2 separate regions of the Homo sapiens genome follow, and region 1 is linked to region 2. The links come from fine-mapping of genetic effects on gene expression. Tissue or cell type: whole blood. Region 2 holds a variant in brackets; the other region holds the start of a gene. All regions are shown on one strand. Distances are from middle to middle.

Region 1 (8,103 bases), 67 kb before region 2:
GAGGTTTGAGGTAGGCCCACGCGGATGATGCTCTCAATGGACCCAGAGTGAGTCACGTTATGGCCCACATGATGGCTCAGATGGCTCTCTGCCTGAGAAGCTCTGAGTCCTCATGCAGACTGGACGCCCCTCCGTAGCTGCTCATCAACTTCCTTTCCCAGCCAGCCCCCAGGGCTTGCCCACTGAGCTCCTGAACCAAGGCAAACTTGCGCTGGGGACGGCGCCGCTGTGTGGTTTCCCTTGCCAAGGCTTCCCTGGCTGCCTCCACTTTCTCGTGGAGGCTTCCTGAAGGTGGCATCTGTATTTTTGTGAAGGGACTTGGTACCAGGCTTGGAGATGAACATGTTAATTCTCTGGCCCTGGACATCAGATCTGTGATATAGTTTCTCAATTTCCTGCTCTGAAGTAAGCCCTGGTGGGTAGTGTCACCATCTGGAATAGGAAAAGGGCTAGATGGGAGGGGTCAGTAGTGCTGGTGGCAGAGGCCAGTCTTCTCAGTGGAAACAGGCTCATGCACTTCCACGCAGGGAGGGCCGACGGTCAAGGGTGGAGGAAAAGCCACAATTTTTCGGTGAACCCATGGATCAGCATGATGGAGTCTTGCAGGTCTTTATCTTCCTCCAGGAGGCACCCCAAGCACGGAGAAGACCCACCAAGCTGCCTGATACCTCTGTCTAGCTCCCCTCTGCCCAGACAGGAACTGCTGTTCACCATTCATTCCAGACCTGGGCCTTTGAGGACAGGAGCTGTAAGGATGATTGATCGATTGCCTGTGTGTGAAGCCCTGGAAGGGCTCTTGCCTAGAATACTGTCCCTACCCTGACAAGGTAGAGGCCATGGTCTGGATGGCGGTGGCCCCCCCATTCATATGTCAAAACCTAACCCTCAATGCAAGGTGGGGCCTGCAGGTGACCAGGTCCTGAAGCAGAGACCTCATGAACGCGATGAGTGCCCTTACACAAAAGCCTGGAGGGAGCCCGTCTTCCACCATGAGATGACACACAGAAGGCACCATCTGTGAGGAATGGGCCTCAACCAGACACTGATTCTGCTGGAGGCTTGATGCTGGACTTCCCAGCCTCCACAGCTGTGAACAATACATTTCCGTGGTTTTATAAATGACCCTGTCTAAGGCGTTCTGTTACAGCAGCACAAAGGAACTAAGACAGTGGGCACCCGTATTTCCATTTAGAGGCGGAAACTGACTCTGAAGTGAGAACCGGTCCACTCTGAGAGCACATCGCCAGGGGAAGAGGACTGTAGCCAGGAAGTTGTTATGTCATGGGGTCATGGGAGGACCCAGCAATGTTGTTTCTGATGATTTCTGAAAGGCGGCTCTTTTCTGGAAGTGGACAGATGATGGGGGAGGGGCAGGAAGCTGAATTCACCACAGTGTCCGAGAACACTGTCTACCAGCGGGAGCTGTTCAGACACACCTCTGGCCAGTCCCCACGGCAGTGAATCTCCTGTCTCTGGACAACAATCCAACAGGGAAAGTGGGGAGGAGGGTTGGGAACTGAACTCTGTTCCACAAGTTCAACCACTGCACTCCACTAAGCAACTGGCACAGCCAGTCCCTGGTGAAGGCTTAAAGATGAGGAAGATGGGGTCAGCGCCTGCCCTCCTGGCCTCAACACATCAGGATGGAGGATTTAGGTGTTAGCAAAAAGTGGCTCAAAGTTCCAATGAAGGACAGGGAGCAAAGGGAGACTTCTTTTAGAAAGGAGACGTTGGAACTTGGATATGGCTTTAGTTAAGGAGCTCCAGGCATCTCAAGTCAGCCCTGAGAGGCAGCAGCCGTGTCTGCCTCTCGGACAGCTATGCCCCAGCCTCCAGCTCAGCAGCTGGCAGGCAGCAGGTGTGGGTGCAGGAATGAGTGAACTCATGGGGACCAGCCTCGGCAAAGACGCACAGTCCCCACAGTGCCCCAGGGGCTGGGAAACAGTGAGCAGCCACCAGCAAGACCAAGGCAGTGCAAGTGGCCACGGCTCAAGGTTTCCCCCAAGGAGGACTATGTCACTTAAGGAGTATGGCCTCTGAAGTAATGTAAATATGGCCTGGAAGATTCAGTCAACACCTATTTCCTTAGTGCCTACAATGTGCAGGTGCAGTTTCTGCTCCCGGAGTTCAGTCATGAACAATGCCACAGTCAGCCCTGCCAACCCACCTGCGTCAGCTCAGGCACCCAGAGCAATGTCACCTGGATCTGCCCTCCCTCCCATGTCACTGGACTCGCTGTCTTTTCCCTGCAATGAAACCTCCAACAGCTTTCCCTGCCACTGTGGGTGGAAGGGCCCTCTTCCTCTTCCCACCTTCATACAGCTTCCAGGCCACCTCCTTAAGAATCCAAAGCAATCTGGTCACACCACTTGGTGGGAAATACACCGAAATGTTAACTGTCCTTATCACTGGGGGAAAAAAATCACAGGTGACTTCAGTACAGCCTCCTCTCCTCTACCATCACTACCCTCCCTCCCATCCTTCCCCAGGTCCAGCCACACTGAAGTTCTCCCCATACCCCAAACACACCAGTAACTTTCCCACCCGGTGCTCCTGCCGTGCCCTAGGCAGGGGCTTTTAACCCCTACCTAATCCTCCGATTTGCTTTACTTTTAAATCCACCTCTGGAGCATAGACTGTGAGCTTCAGAGAGCACAGGTAAGTTCATTACTTTTTCAACAACTAGGAGAGAGCTGCGACGCACCTGCCCCGATCCTAGAGGCTGGGGACCCACCAGAGAAGTGACAAGTCCTTGATCTCAGGGGGCAGACAGCGGGGAGAAGGATGGATGCTAGCACGGAGAACACGCGTGTAAAGACAGAAACGCACACATCCACACCATGCCGCTGTGAAGCCGGCGCCCAGGAGGCTGGCCAAGGTCACAGGAGCGGCGGTGGCGGGCGGATCCGAGCACCTCTCGGCCTGACCCCAGAGCCTAGCTCTCACCCCGGCGAGGGACTTCCACCCCGACTCACCGCGGAATGGGGAGCGCCAGGCTGAACCAAATCCTGTGCTCACCCCTCCGTGCAAACCCCTCAAGGCAACTCAGGCCTCTGAAAGCCTTCCTACCCCCCCGCTCTCCGCTCAGGTCCCCACTCAACCGGTGCCCACCGCCCTGGCGCGCGTCGCTCCGCGATTACCGGCCCGCCAAACAGTCCCCGCAAAGTCCACCCTCCGGGGCTCCCGGTCCCTCAGGTCCCGCGTGCCCGGCCCTGGGCATCCGCAGCGTCCCCGTGGTATCGGACCCCCATCGTCCCTGACACCTGGCGTCTCCGCCCCCCGCCCCCGTCCCCCGCCCCGCCGTCCCTGGCCCCTGCAGTCCCTGGCCCGCGCTGCGGACCTCCGGCTCTGGCTTCCCCCGGGTCCCCGCGGCCCCCGTCCCCCCGCGTCCCCGCGTCCCCGGCCCAGCGCCCGCTGACGCCATGACGCCGCGGCGGAGGGAGGGGCCGGGGCCGGGGCCGGGCCGGGGCGGCGCGAGCGGCTGGAGCAACGGGCCCCGCGGCAGCTGCGGGCGACGCGGTCGATGGACATGGGCACCCAGGGATCGGGGCGCAAGCGGCTCCCCAACCGGGAGCGGCTCACGGCGGAGGACGACGCGCTCAACCAGATCGCGCGGGAGGTGAGCGCTCCGGGAGGGCAGCCGGGGGGCGCCGGGCGGGCGCGGGGGCCGGACGGCTGTCAGGGTCTCTCCGGCGTCCGTCTGTCCCGCTGTGCGTCTGTGCCACTGCGCGTCCGGCTCCAGGCGGGTGGGCCGGGCAGGCGCGCGCCGGGGCGCTGATCCCCAGGCGCTGCGCCCCGGCCCCGATCTCCGAGGCCTGCGGACCCCGCACCCGTTCTCCAGCCCCGGGCCCAGCCCGCGACGCTGCGCGCCCTCCCCCACCCCGGCCACCGTCGGCCGCTGCGCCCTCGGGAGAGGAGCCGGGCGCCGCCAGCGCGCGAGGTGGCCCGGGCTGGCCGGGTGGGGGCGAGCGCCCCGCTTTGTTGTGCGGCATGGGAGGAGGCGGGGGCTTAGGCCCGACCTGGAGGCAGTGGACGGTCGCCGGAGGCCACATGGCCCTGCTGAAATGGCCGAGTCGCTCAGGTGACCATTTGTCATCCATCCATCGATGTCACTCAAGGTGCAGCTCAGAGATGAACTTGGGGATCACTGTGATTTTTCTTTCAGGACTGAGCCTGGAAACGGGTCCAGGCACACTGAAACGTCTTCATTAAAGTTTCCTGGACAGAGTTTATTGTAACTAAGATCATGTTTGGTGATGAACTTTACCTGTGACAAATTGAAGGCGCACTAGAATGGGTATTTGTACAAATGCCTTTTTTTTTTTCCTTCCGCAAGGATTCTACCTTAAGGCTAAAGAATGTACATGACATCCAGAAAGCCGTACAGGGACAGAGAGCAGCAGCTTGGGAAAAGGGGAGCCAATAGGTTGCGGCCCCAGGGGGACAAAGGAAGCTTAATTTTTGACTGTGTTCCCTTTGTACCATTTGAACTGTGTGCCAGGTGGGTGTATGAATGCAAAGAAAGTCTCTGCCTTGTAACCCGCCTTACAGGTTCTTTTCCGTGTTGGCTTTTCCACATGTGATTCTTCCCACAGGAAACACCTCCAAGCCATTTGGACTGTGGTGTCTGGCTGTATCCGTCAGATATTCTGGGGGATCTACTCTGTAACCAATCCTTAGGTGTTTGTAGTTGTAAATACCTGATTTTGCTCTTACGGACATGTGGCAGTCACTCAGTATTTGTTGACTACTGAGTGAATAAAGACTTCTGTTTTTCTCTGTATGATACAGAAAAGGGCTTTCCAGGCAAACCCTTATTCATTCCTGGAAGCCCACTGTGACCTCCAGGAGACCTTCCAGACTCAGCCCTCTCACATCGCACCAGGCCTAAGTCTCCCTGGCTCCACGGCCCTCCATGGCATGCCCGCGCCTGGCATGGCAGTCAGGATACCTTATCATTATTTGTCCACCTGTAGAAGGTGACACCCAGACAGGAAATATCTTACTTTTGTATCCCAAGAGCTCAGCACAGAGCCAGGCACATACTAGGTGTTTGTCTATGTCTGTTACATTAATTAATAAACAAAAGAAGTACAAGGCATTTAAAGGACCTTTGGCTAAATATAGACATTTGCTAAATATAGTAGCTTGAGTATAACTCCCTCCTGTGAAGACAGTCACTTATGTATGCATTTGACCACAGTGCCTTACAAGTGTTCCCTGCAAGGGCCAGAGGTGGCCAGTGAATCGCAAGCCTTGTCTTGATGTCAGTGGTTATGGGGCAGAAGAATGAGAAGAATGAAAATTTCCAGAGTTTGCCTTTTATCCACTGGTGTTTCTTTCTTCTTTTTTTTTTTTTTTTTTTTTTTTAACACAGTCTCACTCTGTTGCCCAGGCTGGAGTACAGTGGTATGATCTCGGCTCACTGCAACCTCCACCTCCCAGGCTCAAGAGATCCTCCTGCCTCAGCCTCACCAGTAGCTGGGATTACAGGCACGCACCACCACACCCGGCTAATTTTTGTATTTTTAATAGAGACGGGGTTTCACCGTGTTGGCCAGGCTGGTCTCAAACTCCTGGCCTCAAGTGATCTTCCCGCCTTGGCCTCTCAAAGTGCTGGGATTACAGGCGTAAGCCACTGCGCCCAGCCTATCTGCTGGTTTTTATAAAATAGATTGAAAAGGAAGGCAAGGGAACACTCCTTGGGTTGAGAGCCCTGAGGTCCTCCCTCCCACCGAGGGAGATGCAGTTGGAGTTACAGAGATAGACTTGTGAGTCAGAGCTGGGCTTTCAAATGACATAGTTCTTAGCCAGCTGTGCCATCCTAGGAAGGTGAGTTACTCACTCTTCTCTGGGCCTCTGTTTTCTCGTCTCTAAAATGGAGAAGAAGAAACCTCCCCTGGCTGTCAGAATTAAAGAAAGTGGGTAGCAATGTAAAGTATGTAACTAGGCGGTGGGTAAATATGAGAGCTTCTTACACGCCCCTCCCGGTAAAACCCAGCCGTAGGTGCAGCTGTTACTAGTGCTGAGTAGCACAGATTGATAGGGTTGGAGGGAGCAGGTGTGACATCTTATGTTTTAGTACAAATTAACTTCTATTTCTCAACTGTGAAAATGAAAATCACTATTCAAATGGCAAATATCTACTCCTTGAATTCATCAGGGTTCTTATAGAAATCAACAAAATCGTCTTGGGTTCAGTACTTTCTTATTCACTCATTGACTCAACAGATACAAGCCATGGTATCCAAATTCCTGTCCTGGGGAGACTGGAGAGTCAGGGAGGAACCCGGCGAGGACCTGCCTGCCCTCCAGGAGTTGGGTCAGAAAGGGGTTGACACCTGTAGATCAATAATGCTAACCGAAGACAGGAAGGGATCTGATATAAAAAGGGCGTAGACAGTGTTCTGAAGGTTTGGACATGAGAGAGAATCACAGCCGGCCAGTGGTCTCAGAAGTGGCTTCCTGGAGGAAGTGGCATTTTGAGTTCTTGAAGGCTGTATGTACCAGTCAAGATGCTTTGGCTGCTGGGACAGAAACCCTGACTGGACTGACATTGACAAGGGGAAGTATATTGGCTGGAGCACAGCAAGCCCGGAGGCAGGGCAGGATTCCCCGCCAGCCTCACCAGTGGCTCCGGCCTCTTTTTCCCACAGCACCTGCGCAGCTGGTTGGGCTGGGCCATCCTCTGTGGGTGGCCTCATCCTCAGGCTGACTTGCTTCATGGAGGCCAGCTGGCCTTGGCTTTCCCGGGCTGCCACTGTGGAGCCCACACACCGTCTCTTCTGGTGGCTCTCTCCAGAGAGCTAGCAGTATCTCCCTGGTAAACTTTCATGAGTCTGTCTGGCCACTCCTGCACCAAGCTCTTTGACAAGGACCATGGACTTAGGGGCTCAGTGCCTGTGGCAAAGGGGGGTGGGTCTACCCTGTGACCTGTCAGACTCATCCTGGGACTGGGGAGAGCCGGCCTCCCTGAAACACTTGGGAAGGTGGGGGCCTGAATGGAAACTGGGGAGGCTTCAAGGAAGTGGGAGGGAGTGGGCTGCCACTTGGGCCTGGCACCCAAGAACATGCCTTCTGGAGAGTAAGTGGAAAATTCTGGGCTGAGGTCATTGGGAAGCCTGAGTCACCTGGCAGGGACGTGGGTTCCAGTTCGCTGGAGCGAGGGGAAGAGCTAGGCTGCCCTGTGCAGGCAGGGCTTTGCACTCTTCTGGGTAGAAGCAGGACTCGTGGTGGGGGCAGCCTTTGGAGGGTGCATTTCTGCTTCTGCAGCCGGTGTCCTGCTTCCATGTGATGGTTTAAACTCTAGGCAAGCGTGTATAGTAAAGGGAGTTATTTGCAAATGCTGTATTATCGCAAGTCAATTATTTCTCACTCTCTTGTTGCAGTGGAATTCAGGCGGGATGTTATCAGGAGAAAGGTTTAGTACGCACTTGCAGAAGCTCATTAGCACCAAAGGCATGAGCTGCGCCTCCCACTTCTGGGGAGGGGTGTTTCCAACGCAGATAGATTTTCCTCTCCTACCGCATTTCACATTCTACTGGTGCATTTTGGTAGCATCCCAAACTTCTCATTCAGCACTCTGCAGCTGAGTAAAGCGATACTGGTCTCACCATGCAATTCAAAGTATTGCTCTCAAATGAAGAATGTTTTTCCCAACAGGAACAGTCATTTGCGCAGGCTGCATTAGGAACTCACCGTGGGGCCTTGAGACAGTGCGGTGAGCTTATTATCCCCTGGTGGTGCCATAGGTACCCCTTCCTCACCCAGCAGGACGGAGGCCCTCCCCCCATAACTGTTTCTGCAGCCTCCTCTCCAAGCTGGCCCCTCTGTGGCCTGCGGCCTCGGGCCCTGATCCATGGCAGGGGCACTGCTGCCCCACCCGGCTGCTTCACCGGCCCCAAGTTGACTCGTGGGCCTGCGGGTGCTGTTGGTTCAGGCCTCACAGCCACCGCCTTTCACTTGAGCCACGGCCACACAGGAGTCCAGTTGCGGAGAAGGGGTCGCACTGCCCCCAAGGAGTCCAGTTGTGGAGAAGGGGTCACACTGCCCCCAAGGAGTCCAGTTGTGGAGAAGGGGTCACACAGCCCCCAAGGACTCCAG
Region 2 (8,103 bases):
CGACGCCAGATCGGCCCCAGCGGCCCGCACCCGCACCCTGCAAGCTCGTTCTCCCCTGCGGGCCGCCGCACCGGGCCAAGGGGGGCTGTGTGCACGCAGCTGCGTCGTCCTGGAAGTCGGCCCTTCTCGGGATGCCGCGTTAGTGGGGTGCCCGGCCGGCAGGTGCAGCGGTGCTGGGGCCTAGGCTTCCGCGTCCAGGAAGCTCAGCGTGGCCTGAGGGTGATGGATGTGGGGGAGCCGGGAACTCATACCCTCGCCCAGCCCCGGGCAGGTCCCCCCCCGGAGGGGACCCCCTCTTCGGGTCGACCCCTACTGGGCGCGGCATCCTCCCCGGAGCGCCCGCTTCCCACGGCCCCTGCGGGTGGAGCTGCGGCCGGAGCCTGAGGGGTCTTTTCCTCCAGGTCCTCTTTCCGGCGGGGGCCGGAGGGGTGGTGATGGACAGCCCGGGAGGGGCGGGGCAGGACCAGGAAGATCCTTCCGAGACGGAGCGCGGGGGGCGGGGCGGGGCTCGCGTTAAGGGAGCGCGGAAGGGCGGGACAGGCCGTGGGGCGGGGCCTGGGTGGGGCGGAGCCGGTGGGGGTGGGGAAAGGGGCGTAACCGGGAGGGACCCTCCGAGGCGGAGCGGCGCAGGGGGGCGGGGAAGGCGGGTCATGGGGCGGGGGCGGTGGGGCGAGTCATGGGGCGGGGACGGGGCGGGGCGTAGCCGGGAGGGCCCCTCCGAGGCGGAACTGCGTGGGGGGCGGGGCGGGCCGTGGGACGGGCGGAGGCGCCCGAGTCCCGCTTCCCCGGCGCCCTTCCACCCCGAGCCCGACTCAGCCCGCGGCCACCTGCGCCCCGCCCCTGTCGGCCGCGCCCGAGCCCAGCGCCGCGAGCCGCTCCCCGGCGGGCTGGCTCCTGGCCCCGGAAGCGCGAGCGTTCACTTAGCGGCGAGTGGCTCCGTCTCCGCGGACAGAGCGCGCGCCCCCTGGCCCGGCCCGCGAGGGGCTCCCGGCGCGGTCCCCGAGCATTTCCCGCCGGGTGGAGCGGGCCGAGCCCGGCAGGATGACCAGCCCCGCGGCCGCTCAAAGCCGGGAGATCGACTGTTTGAGCCCGGAAGCGCAGAAGCTGGTAAGAGGAAAGCGCTTCCGAAACTTTCTTTCGTGACTGCGGCGGGGTTTCAGGGGCTTCCAGCTCGTTCCGAGGTCAATGGCAGGCGCAGGTGCCCGGGAGGCGTGGGGTGGGCTCTGGCGGGACCCCAGCGCGGTGGGAGCGGGCGCAGTGGGCGCGGGTCCGTGAGTGGCCCGGCGAGCGGCGTCCCTCATGCGCTAGGAAGCACGCTTTATTGTGGGACGCCACCTCCAAGGACGAAAAGGCACATGGTCTCTCCCCGCCCGAGGTGATGGGCTGCAGACAGGCTCTGACCAGGTCTGCGCCTGGCCTGGAGTCACAGGGAGCTGCTAGTTTGCTATTTTACAAAATACAGCATCAAGGACCGGGTGGCCAGAGCCGGTGCCCTCACCCGCTGTTGGAACCACCGGGGAGCGGCTGGGGTGCTTTGGAGCACTCAACCCGCTCAGCACCTGGGGACCACCTCCGCCGAGGACTCCAGACGCCAAATCCACTTTGGCTAGTCTCCCGGGTCCGCCCAGCGCGGACAGGATCCTGCCTCTAGGATTTTGCCGTTGTCCAGCTCAATATGCAGTCGTGGGGCTACGGCTGTAGTTTGGCATTAAAATTGGGCAGGGGATGAGGCGGAGAGGGTTTGCAAATACACATTTTCATGCAGCTTGTGGTTGAACATGAATGGGAATAAAAGTGAAAGGGTGCACTTTGGAAAAGAAATATAAAACCCTAGCTTTCCACTTAATCAGGTGTTCGTGGGATCTTGGTAAAAGTATGAGCCCCAAACAATCACTCTTTCATCAGGTAGAAATTAATCATCTACTGGGTGTGTGTGTAAGATTTAAGATGAATCAGACTGCCTTGACCTTGGGAGAGCTTATTAGGAAATGCCAGAGAGAGGTGTAGAAGTAGAGTCTGATGAACTCATACTGAAAAGCCAGTTCTTTGCTTGTCAGATGGTTGCTGTTTTTTAAATGTCCATTTTAGTGTGGTTTTTCTGTGACTTCGTTTAAAACTCTGGCAGTGGGCCAGCCCTCTGGAGCCGGTTTTTACCCCTTCAACTAATTAGTTCCTAGGGGCCTGGGAAGAGAGACCCTTGAATCACCATCAGGGAAGGGTTCTTGAAAGAAGGAAGGGTGGGAATGTGGTTGAGCGGTGCCAGTGTTCTGAGGAGCAGCCTGGGACACCATAGATGGCAGGAGGAGGATGGAGGTGAAGAGCTGCCTGCTGGACTTAGAGTCCTTGGAGAAGGGAAGAGTAAACATTGAGAACAGGATGTGAGGAAACTAGGGACAGGCTAATCAGAGGAGTAGGTAGAGGCACACCTGGAGCAGCTAAGGCACTGGCTACAGGGTCTATTACTTAAGGCTGGGAGCCTCCTGGGCGGGTCTGGGTTCAGATGACTTCGAGATGCTGCCGGGAGGAAGGGAGAGGAAAGTCTGGACTGTGTCCAACTGAGTAGTTATGTGATCAGCCCAGGCCCACTGTCCCTCACCCCCAGTTCCAGAACCCAATAAGCTTTGAAGACCGGAAGGTTTGTGTTTTGTTTTGTTTTTATAAGTTTGTGGCAGAATTTTGGCAGTGAGACTTGCCCTGTCCAATGGGGGGCTAGTTTTGGTCTTCACTGATCCCTCTGAGTGTGAATTTTCTTACGTTTCTCTGCAGTCTTGTTGATGTCTTTGATTAAGGGCTGCTACTCTGGGTTGTACCAGAATATATGGTGTATGCATCTTACTACGTTTCTAATGTCCAAAAATGCTGAATTCTGAATCATGGCCCCAAGGGTTTTCAGAGAGAAGTTGTGAACCTGTAGGAGCTTTTCTTGGTAAATGGTAGCAAAAACTGTATCAGAGTGAGACATGGTGAACAAAAGCAAAATGCAGTTCCTGTTAAGAGGCTAATGTTCAGGTAGGGAAGGAAATGTGCTGAGTGGTGATGGGAATTGGGGGTCATCATGGGTGGGGGGTAGGGCGTCACCCAGCGGCTGCCCTGGGCCATGGGCTGGGTATAGGCACAGGAAAGTGGTTGTGGGTGTTTCACACTGGTTTGTGCCAGTTCTTGCTCTGCATTGTGTCCGTGGGTTCAGGGATGGGTCTCCTGCGGAAAGGAGGGACTGGGGGCCGCACCCATGCAGAGGAGAGCCGGGTTGGTCAGAGGAAGTAGATTTGGCAAGCTCCACCTCAACTAGAAGACAAAAGCAGGATCTGAGTGGGAGCCTGGGCTTCTTCAGCAAGTGGGCACCAGCCCTGGAGCTGTAGGAGAGGGTCCGATGCGGACAGTGGAGACACTGTGCATTTCTGCAGCTTTTGTAACTTCCCTGTGTTTGCGATGGCTTGTGTCACCCCGCTCTCTTTCCACATACTGATTAGCATTCAGCCCTTCTAAATGACCAGCACTGTCCCAAGAAAGGGCTGTTAGGGGAGAGCGTGGACACACAGTCTCCCAAGTCCCATCTCATTATAGGTACCTGGGCCAGGGTCCCCAGGTGTGGGAGAGTGGAGTCTTGACCAATATGGGGATGAATCAGTTGGCACGAGGCGGGCTGGCCCTGCTCTAGCTCAGTCTGAGATGGTGGAGCGTGGAATCATATGGTGTGTGTTTTAGGCATGTCATTTCCCCGGGCAGGTAAGACATAAATATAGTAAGGTAGGTCTTTTCTAGTAGTATTG[A/G]GAGTGTCCTACTGGGGCAAAGATGGAGACTAAATTTCCCTTTTTCTTTAAGAGTCAGTTTCTGTTCAGCCTGAGTTAATATCCCACAGCGGAAGCCTCCTTAGCAAATTTCAAAAAACCCTGCAGTCTCAACTGCCACTTATGCTGAGCACAGGAAATCAAGTTATTTATAGTTGCAGAACGGTGTTTCAGCGAAGTTGATTGGAGAGTTACCTGATTATAGTGAGATTCTTATCCAATCCCTACAGAATTGTGAGACTAAATGTTGGTGCAGCATGTTTGGTCCTCAAAAGGCAATGTCCAAGAGGAACTTCTTATCCCCGAAAAATCAGGCTGTGTGACTCAGCAAAGGAATTGTTTATGACTGGTTACTCATATGCCAGTGCTTCCAGAATATCTGCTCGTATTTAAAGGAGTGATCTTGAAGCCCCAGAGGCCATAATGTTTAGATTACCAACCTCTTCACCAATCAGTAAGTCCATTACATCTCACTACGTGTTAGACATGGGACAGGAGAAGAGGATTTTTATTACCTCACTGTTATTACTGGAGGCCGCCCAAATTTGTTTTTTGTTTTTTTTTTTTAAATAAAGAAGCTTGTTTTCATGGAATGGACTTACTAGAACTTTTATTATTCAGACTACCTAGATAAAATTAAGTAAATTCGTTTCTTTCTCCCAAATTAAATATTTTGACTACATGCAAGATTTAATCATTCAAAATTGCCATGTATTTGATTATAGACCAGTAGTATAATCCCCCTGCCCCAGGCCAGATTCCAAAACAATAAACCAAAACACACACACACCTGGCAACAGAAATTATATGTATTCCGAGACTCATTCATTCATTTTGGAAAGGGCCAGTGTTTCCAGTGGTTTCTCCTTGGGATTGTAACTTTACAACTTTAAAACTAGGTAAGTAGTTTTCCCTTGAATCTAAAGTATAACTACTTTGTAGTAGAGAAGTAATTTATCTTAAATCACTATAATGAAGATTTACTCTTAATTTTAACCAAAATGTTTCATTTATTTGTGTAATGAAGATGATCAAAGCAACGCCACCTGTGATCCTTCTGTCTTTTTTACTGTATGTGGCACGTGGCTGTGTGATTTTCCTAGGGAAAGGAGTGGGCTTTCCCTGTGGGTTGAGAACCTCTGTCCCCCTCCTCTGAAGTTTCCCCAGTTTTTCCTGCTTCTCTGCTAGGTGGGTGCCTTAGCATGCTTGTCTTCTCATCGTGCTTCTAAACTTCTCTGAACCGGATTTATACTCTTAGGTCAGTAGCTGTCAAAGAAGACACTAAGTAGTGAAAGTAGCTAATATTTACCAAACCCCTGCTGCGCCCACCTGGTGTTTTATGTGAAGGTCTTCTCTAACCCTTGCTGTAACCTCATGGGGAGCAGATCGTTTTCTCTCAGTTTTTCAGATAAAGAGGAAACTGAGGCTCAGAAAGGTCAGGGACTTTCCAAGCCCTCACAGCTAGTCAGCAGTGGAGCCAGTTCAGACCCAGGCCTGCTGACTCGGAACTGGTACTGATAACTGTCACCACTGTATGCAATGCTGCAGGCAGGGGCTGGCAGGTAGTAAATGTGCAAGATATAGCTGTGGCTGCCACGGCTGCTGCTGCTGCTTTTGTCGCTGTTGTCAGCTTTTCTTGGCAGCCCTGCTGTCTCATACCCCAGTATTGGGGCTGAAGGATTTCTTTTTACCAAAGCTGCCTCTTAGGACAGAAGTCCTTGTCTTGAATGCATACTGGGAAGTCTTCACTCTGTCAAACTTTTCTGTTCTCTGCCTGGTAATTTCCAGACAGAAGAGAACATTCAAAGAACGAACTTACTTTCCTTCTTTTTTTTTATTGAGACAGTCGTGCTTGATTGCCCAGGCTGGAATGCAATGGCACAATCTCAGCTCACTGCAACCTCCGTTTCCCAGGTGCAACCGATTCTCCTGCCTCAGACCTCTGAAGCAGCTGGGACTACAGGTGCCTGCCACCTCACCCGGCTAATTTTTGTATTTTTAGTAGAGATGGGGTTTCACCACATTGGCCGGGGTGGTCTCAAACTCCTGACCTCAAGTGATCCTCCCATCTCGGCCTCCCAAAGTGCTGGGATTACAGGCATGAGCCACCACACCCGGCCCAATGAGCTTTACTTTTCTACATAAGGAAAATAATGGTAGAAATGAAATAGCTGTGAAACTTGTTTTGCTATTTTTGTACCATGCTAAAATGTTAACTACTGCTTATGTCGGCATACACCTGAGAGCTGCTGTGATTTAAGCCTTTTTATTTTTCTGGGTATGATGTAACTCCTCCCCTACCTCATCCAAGTAGATAAGTTCATGGAGGATAAACATGACAGCTGCTGTTTCTTTTATAGCTGGTTCCAGGGAATATCCACTGAATATAGGAAAGATTGTCAGTTGCTGTGTGCTGCCCTGGTGCTGGTGGAGCTTTCAGCCTTCTTCTCAGAGGAAACAATTTAAATGTTTTTGTGAAACCCTAGAGGTCTGGGGTTTGTAGGACAGTCTTGAGCAGAGCAGGCAAAGGTGAAGGGAGTGGAGCCCAGACGTGCTGCCTGGAGGGAAACCTGTCACCTGGAGAGGAAACGGCACAGGGGAGGCCCAGCCGCCCTCGCCTCTCAGTCCCGCACGTCTCTGTTAGTGGTAGTCATGGTTCTTGTATTTCCATCATGTTGAGGCAATTGAAGGAAATATGAAGATTCATTCATCTCAGGAAAAGCAAGAAATGTATTAACAGCAAGAGTAGAAGTTCACTTGCATGGAAGATACTGTATAGCGTATTTATTTCTTAGCGCCAGTGGGAGTAGCTGCTAAGCCCAAGATTGTGTTGTGAGGTTTGAATAGGTCAATGTGTGAGTCATCAATAAAGTAACATCAATCATTTTGTTCCCGATTAATACGTTTGCTATTTTAGGATGCGAAGGACTTTAAAGAAGCTTATTATTCTGAAAAGCAAAGCCTGGAGATTTCCAGTAGCAAAACAGACACAGTCTGTGGACAATCTCAGTGTACAAATAATTCACCTCTGGCATGAACCCAAAGAATTTCAGAGGGGAAGGAAGCTCTTAAAGATTACGTCCCCTCCTACTTCTTTAATGAGGGCTGGGGTTCAAAAACCGAGTAACTTATCCAGGCTCACATAACTGTAGGTGACAGAGCCCAAGCTGGAGGCTGTGGCTGGGTCTTCAGACTCCTTTCTTGACAGTCTGCACCTGCATAAACTCAGACCTTTACTGAGAACAGTGCAGCCATAGCTGAGAGAAGCAGTCGGCACCCAGCATTTCTTGGACTTGTCTGCCAGGTCCCCCGAGTGCAGAGGACAGTGTGCTGGCTCCTGGGGCCTGTGGGCCCGGCCAGGAGCAGCCTTGTAAGCTAAAGCCTTCTTTGAAGGTGGCCGTCTTACCGTAAACTTTCATGGTAATTTCAGTCTACTCCATAATTTGTCTGAGTTAATTTTGATGGAAACATAGTGTTTTAAGTAATCAGTTAGGCTTTGATCTCTAACTTTATGCCATCCAAATCTTCATGATGGCCTGAGCACCAGGCACCCAGACCTGTGCTCTGAATTGTGCCGGGGCTGGTTCATACAGTGTGATGGAGAGACGAGAGATCCACACTGGAGTTCTGAAGCTGTGGTTCTCAACCCTGTCTTTTTACAAGTTCCTTAACTTCCTTACTAGCCTGAAATGAAATGCATAGGTGAGAAAGTCAACCAGCGCACATAATTTCGAGTCAATATAACATTTCCTTAAAAAATAAAATACAGGTAGTTTATAGTAACATAATAAGAATTTTGATATAGAAATACTCAAGACCAAGTACACCAGCAGTTGAATGCAGTGATGAGACCTGCACACACCTGTGCCTGGCGTCACAGGGAGGCTGACACAGGTGTGTTGCACTGAGACCCACACACCACCCCTCATGTTGCTGTCTATGACGTGACATTCTACAAAGTTGACTAACTCTCAGGAAAGTTCTGAACAAAGCCAAGTATCATCATCTTCCTTCAATTTCCATGTCGATTGCATTCCTGGAATAGTTCATGTATATTTGAACTGTGTAAAACATATTTTGAGTTTATATGTAAGTTGCAATCAGTTTGTAAATCCAAAAATTAAAAATAGTGGTTTTTCTTTTCTTTTTTTTTTTTTTCTTTTTTTTTGAGATGGAATTTCGCTCTGTCGCCCAGGCTGGAGTGCAATGGTGAGATCTCGGCTCACTACAACCTCCGCCTCCCGGGTTCAAGTGATTCTCCTGCCTCAGCCTCCTGAGTAGCTGGGATTATAGGCATGCGCCACCATGCCCGGCT

Evidence for each region. PIP is the estimated chance that this variant, and not a neighbour inherited with it, causes the effect.
Region 1: it holds the start of LRRFIP1, and the variant in region 2 is fine-mapped to the expression of LRRFIP1 in whole blood (TOPMed, PIP above 0.99).

Annotation. Positions count from the first base shown.
Region 1 is chr2:237,624,122-237,632,224 of GRCh38, forward strand. It overlaps LRRFIP1 (LRR binding FLII interacting protein 1), which reads left to right and starts at 3,466. Exons shown (of 24, transcript NM_001137550.2): 1 at 3,466-3,619. The coding sequence starts at 3,524. RefSeq lists enhancers at 6,873-7,372, 7,375-7,936.
Region 2 is chr2:237,691,415-237,699,517 of GRCh38, forward strand. All of the region lies in intron 1 of LRRFIP1 (LRR binding FLII interacting protein 1), which reads left to right. It overlaps LOC124906128 (a long non-coding RNA gene), which reads right to left and starts at 382. Exons shown (of 2, transcript XR_007088145.1): 1 at 1-382. RefSeq lists enhancers at 1-541, 3,168-3,347, 5,670-5,879 and silencers at 1-554, 565-1,104, 6,943-6,992. The variant A/G (reference allele first, on the strand shown) is at 3,771.